Linked DNA regions of Homo sapiens: region 2 is linked to region 1. Evidence: fine-mapped expression QTL. A gene starts in region 1. The other region holds a variant in brackets. All regions are shown on one strand. Distances are from middle to middle.

Evidence for each region. PIP is the estimated chance that this variant, and not a neighbour inherited with it, causes the effect.
Region 2: its variant is fine-mapped to the expression of C7orf78 in nasal epithelium (TOPMed, PIP above 0.99). The same link has a PIP of 0.9 or more in lung.

Annotation. Positions count from the first base shown.
Region 1 is chr7:12,502,814-12,505,747 of GRCh38, reverse strand. C7orf78 (chromosome 7 open reading frame 78) reads right to left here and starts at 1,307. Exons shown (of 6, transcript NM_001386514.1): 1 at 1,202-1,307. The coding sequence starts at 1,204.
Region 2 is chr7:12,539,543-12,542,476 of GRCh38, reverse strand. C7orf78 (chromosome 7 open reading frame 78) reads right to left here. Exons shown (of 6, transcript NM_001386514.1): 6 at 1,207-1,557. The coding sequence ends at 1,554. Among named protein-coding and RNA genes, the nearest start is that of SCIN, 30 kb to the left of the region's middle. The variant A/C (reference allele first, on the strand shown) is at 1,549.

The DNA of each region.
Region 1 (2,934 bases):
AAACTAAAGATTAGAGAAATACAAAGCTATGAAATATATGACTGAGAAATTAAGGAAAAAATAAATTAGTAATATTCTCATTTAAAGATTTAATAGTAAATGTTGCTTTTATAAAACCTATAGGTTGTCCAAGATGTTGCACTGAAAATAAAAGAATGGCTTTATCTGCATTCAATAAGCAGAGTTATTCTCCACCTAAGATAGTATATTTATACCTCAAGGATCAGTTTAAATGCTGCCTCCAATGAAAGCATTTTCAAATCTCTGTATCAGGATTTATGTTTTCTTTTTCTGAATACAACAATGGAGTTCAAATCTTCATTTTAACTTGTACCTGGATAATTTATTTATGTCAACTCCTAATTAGATTATAAAATAATTAAGACAAGGATTTCTATCTCTACAAACTCTATGCATAGTTCTCCATGTTTTAGATTGAGCTGTGTGAAATTGTTATTCAACCATTTTCTACCTTACAAAAATGCAAATTTTATATATTTCAATCATAATAATTATGTTTGCCAAATTGTGAAAATTATATTCGCCTTTTGAAAACTGTATGTAAAACCCAAACATCTAATCATATTTTTTTCTAAATAAAGAAAAACTTCACCATAATAGTGACAATACAAAAAACATTCTTTTGAATTTCTTCCTCAAAGATTTTCTCCAGGAAAGTCACTAAATATTTTTGTTATCTGCTTTTAAATTTGCTAATAAAAAAAGGAATACATTTCTTTAGTTAGTAAATATATGCAAATTTAAAGTTCCTTTGCCTAGATATATGATTTGAATTTTATAACATTAAATTTGGGAGGTAGATAGGTAAAAAAATAGATACAGATACACTTGATACCTTAATAAGTTGTCAATATAAAAAAATGTAATATAATCTGCTATCGTGATCACAGTAAACTTTTTAGACCACATATTCATGCACATTTGTAAACTTGTATAAAGGGAAATTCAACACTGTCTTTTAGCAGGGCTTTCTCTTTCTTAATATACTTTTCATAATTTCTTATTTATTTATTATATCATGGATAAATGAATTGCTTTTCTCATAAGTGAATTCATCTTATATACCTTAACATATAAAACATATAGGCTCCAAAGAGCTAGTCAGTTTGACAAACAAGAAGAATTCAAAATAAAAACAAAAGGCAGGAGCATTCATTAGAAAACCAGTTACTTCACTTACCATTTGAAAGATAGCTTTTCATAAAAGTTTTAGAGTAATATATCTCAGCAAATCTTTTCTGTAAAGCCAAGAGAGACTAACAGTTTAACATTATCCTTTGCTTTACAAAAGAAGCTAAAGTATATTTAAGTTTTGCTCATCTGGGTTGCTAAGAAACCGAATTAATTTTCTACCAGACTCAAGTCAGAGTAGAAAAAGAAAAGTAAAACTAGGGCCTCTGGTTGTTGCCTAAAACATAGCAACAAAGCAATAACTCTCATGCTTTTATTTCCAAAGGTTGAAAATCAGCACAACAACAAGCTCAATACTCAGTAAATACACAGAAAGAGAGCACATGAATAATTGAACTCCAAATCAGTTTTACTAAGTCTTGAGAACTCACCTTTTGTAATTGCTTAGCAATCTGCTTTATAAAGTGATATGAGTTTGACATGTGATATATTATATGATTCTGAGAGGCAGTTTTCACCTTGGGCTTAAGAAGGTTGACTTAATTTCTTCAAAGGACATTTTTTAAAACAAATAAAGATTACAAGTTCTTTCTAATCTACGGCTCAACCTACAGATCTTAATTTTCTTTTTGTTTCCTTTTTCTTTTTTTCAGAAACACAGTCATGCTCTGTCGCCTAGGCTGGTCTCAAACACCTAGCTTCAAGCAATCCTTCCACCTCAGCCTCCCAAATTGATGGGATTACAGGTGTGAGCTACCACACTCAGCCTCTGCTACATAATTTATGTGGAAAATTCCTCCTTTTTATTAATCAAAACCTACACTCAATAGATACATATTTCTTGGTAAGTTAAAAAAACTTTTTAAAATAGAAAACTTCAAATATAATGGGTGCAGCACACCAACATGGCACATGTATACATGTGTAACAAACCTGCACGCTGTGCACATGTACCCTAAAACTTAAAGTATAATTAAAAAAAAAAAGAAAGAAAACTTCAAATATATACAAAAGTAGACATTGTGTAATGAATCCCCCATGTAACCATCATCCAGTTTAAAAAATTACCTTTTATGGCTAATCTTATTTCACACACTTGCCCCAAATATATCTCCAACTTTTTCCCCTTCCCATATTGTTTTGAAGCATCATAATATTTTATCAGTAATTATATCAGAATGTTACCCCCAAAAGATAAGAACACTTTTATTTTTAAAACATAAGCACCATTATGACATCTAAAAAATGAACATCAATTCATTGGTATTATTGAATATCCACAATTCAAGTTTCCAATTATCTCATAAATCCCATAAATATTTTTTTTCTTTTGTGTTTCCTTCTTTTATTTATTTGTTTATTATTATACTTTAAGTTTTAGGGTACATGTGCACATTGTGCAGCTTAGTTACATACATATACATGTGCCATGCTGGTGTGCTGCACCCACTAACTCGTCATCTAGCATTAGGTATATCTCCCAATGCTATCCCTCCCCCCTACCCCCACCCCACAACAGTCCCCAGAGTGTCATGTTCCCCTTCCTGTGTCCATGTGATCTCATTGTTCAATTCCCACCTATGAGTGAGAATATGCAGTGTTTGGTTTTTTGTTGTTGCGATAGTTTAGTGAGAATGATGACTTCCAATTTCATCCAGGTCCCTACAAAGGACATGAACTCATCATTTTTTATGGCTGCATAGTATTCCATGGTGTATATGTGCCACATTTTCTTAATCCAGTCTATCATTCTTGGACATTTGGGTTGGTTCCAAGTCTTTG
Region 2 (2,934 bases), 37 kb before region 1:
AAAACGATGAGATTACCAAGAGAGTGTATATAGATAAGAAAGAGATCAGGCCTAGGACTAAGTCCTGGGGCATTTCAGCCTTTCTACTCGCATAACCTGAGTAAATTCAGGTATCTGATTTATTTAATCCAGTATTTGCTGCATTTCTTTTTCTAAAGAGCACATTTCTTTTCAAGAATTACACATTAAAATTCCAGGGAACTTAAATTATGCAAAATATCCTTTGGGAAATGATTTAATTTCATTGCCTCATCTTTCCACTTAATGTTGCTTATGTCAACAATGCTATTAAATACGTACTTGCCTTTATTTCAGTAGTTTTCATAGTGAAATTGGAAAGGTGATAGGATAATCCATTTGATAAAACTGGCAATAGCATTAAATCCTACCCTCCCCTTTTATTAATTTTCAATTATAATCATCAAATCTTGATCAGAAGCAAAGAAGTTTCAAGTCATTTGTTTTCTTTCCCTCAAAATATTTAAACAAAAATTTAGAAAATTATTTTAACATGTTAAAAGACAGACCTTTCCTTCTAGTTGGAACTATAAATTCTCCAAGCCTGGTGTTCTTTAAGAAGGACATTTATTATTTCTGTTACTTGGAGATCTTCTCTCTTTTGATATACTTGAGTGTCTCAGAGAAGCTTCTTAAAGTGTATTAGAAAAAACTGAAAAATGAAGATTCAAATATTGATTTCAATATGCCATAAACATACTAAATAAATGTTGATTATTTCAACCTATGCCACCTTGTATATGTGAACACAAAGCTCATACATATACTCTTTTTCTTTTCTTTTCTTTTTCTTCTTTTTTTTTTCAGAAATAAACACTATCACTAACCATCTGGTATCCTATGATTCCTGAAAATAAAATCTATTTCTAGGAACAATTTAAACCGTAGAAGAACTTCACTGTGTCATGAATTAAACTTTCCTATTTTTTTGTCTTTGGATGACATCCTCTGGGAAAGTGCCCCATTTATATTTCAGTGACTTCAATTCTGGTTGCTACCTTGTTCTCTATTTTTTAAAGTAAAAATATTTGATTTTTAACTACTACTTTCCCACACAGCATAACAGTCATCCTTTAGTAGAATATATGCTATATCCAGAGAATTCTTATTTCTATGAAGGAGGCAAACAGATAAAATTTGCAATCTTTGGCCTTAGAGAAACATGGTGGTCAAAATTAGTAAGCATTATTGTTGTTTGTCTCACATTAGCTTTACCTGAGACTAGAGCATCTTTAACTTTGGACATTAACAGAAAGCACATTATCAGCATTTCCACTCATAGTTGCAAGATCTAACTTTCACAAACTAAATCAAAAGCCTTATGATTGGATTCTGATCCCTGTGGTAACAAGGGAATTTCAAATTATGCAACTTTCATTTGTTGTTTTAGCACTTTCTCATGCCTCTGGGAGAGTGCAGATTTCTGTAGAATCCAGGAAGGTGCCAGAATTCATCAATGTTCTCACTGGGAAATGCACGGGAGATGAACATTCAGGCCAGAGTTCAGGAAGCCCTATGCTGTTTTGGTCC[A/C]TCAGCTATCTAAATGAACAAAAGAGAAATGTGTGAACAGAATTCACTGAATCAGTTTCTATAAAGGGTGAGACTTACCTGAAAGGTCACTCCTGGGACAAGAAACTTGGCTGCAAATGCTAGATGTCATTTGCTTAATCCTCTTATTCACTACAGAAATAACTAAAACCAAGCTTATAAAGGCATGATAACAAAAAAGAATGGTTGAACATGACTACAACTATGATGTGGAAGTAGAACTATACTCTGTTGGCCAAACGGTCAAATTTATTTTTCGTACTTACCAGAAAGCATGCACATGCAACTGAGGGCAACAGTACAAGGTGTTTTGGAGTGCCATCTTGAATAAGTGATGTTAACATTAAATTCCCAGTGAAGACTTTAGTTTCCCAGCTTATAAAATTATAACAACAATAATAATAATTATAATACCTGACTAAACACTGCATAGTCTGAAGACAATTGAGTGAGGTTATGCCTATGAAAATGATTGCACATTACTGAGTTTGATGTATAAATGCCAATTAAAAGCTGCAAAAATTAAGGACTTCTAAATACATCCTGTCTTACACAATTCAACTTTTCCTTCTGTATTAGCACCAGTAGGGTAGAATAGTGCAGGGAAGTGTTACAATGAGGCTTCCCACTTAGGTGAGGGGAGACAGGAGCTCCTTTAGAGAAGGGCTATAAGTTTTTAAAGGATGTGGAAATGGGATGTGTTTCCTGTTGCCTTGAAATGGAGGAAAAGCCTCAAAGCTAAAACTAGGAGACAGGTTGGTTCCTTCAAACCAAAGGAAGCCAACTTCCTGATTTCTTACACATGGACAAGAGTTTTCCTTTATATAAACTCCTATGTTCCATTGAAACCAACCCAATAATCCCATAGACTGTTCTTTTTGATACACATAGAAATTGACCTTTCTGTTCTTAAAGCTTGAAGCTTACATTTGTTTTATCTGAGTTCCTTCCTCAGGAAAGCACCTTCAGGCCTCTTAAAAAGGTATCCAAGAAGTGAAACTCACCAGATCATGACATCCTAACAATGAGAAGCCTGGAGCCCTCATTCATCATGATTGCATCCTTGCCTCTCCCTAGTTCCTGTTTCTTACACATTGTTACATTTCTTTCTACAGAAGAATGTTATATAAACCCATAGGTTTAGTCAGTTAGAGAGATGGATTTGAGCCTGAGCTCTCATCTCCTTGACTGCAGCACCTGATTAAAGACTTCTTCCTTGGCAATACTCATTGTCTCAGTGATTGGCTTTCTGTGTGGTGAGCAGCAGGACCTAGACTAAACCCCTGGTGTTTTGGTAACACCATCAAGAAACTGCTAGAAGTTCTATCCCTATGGGGCTTTTTAAAAGGTAAATAGGCCAGACCAACT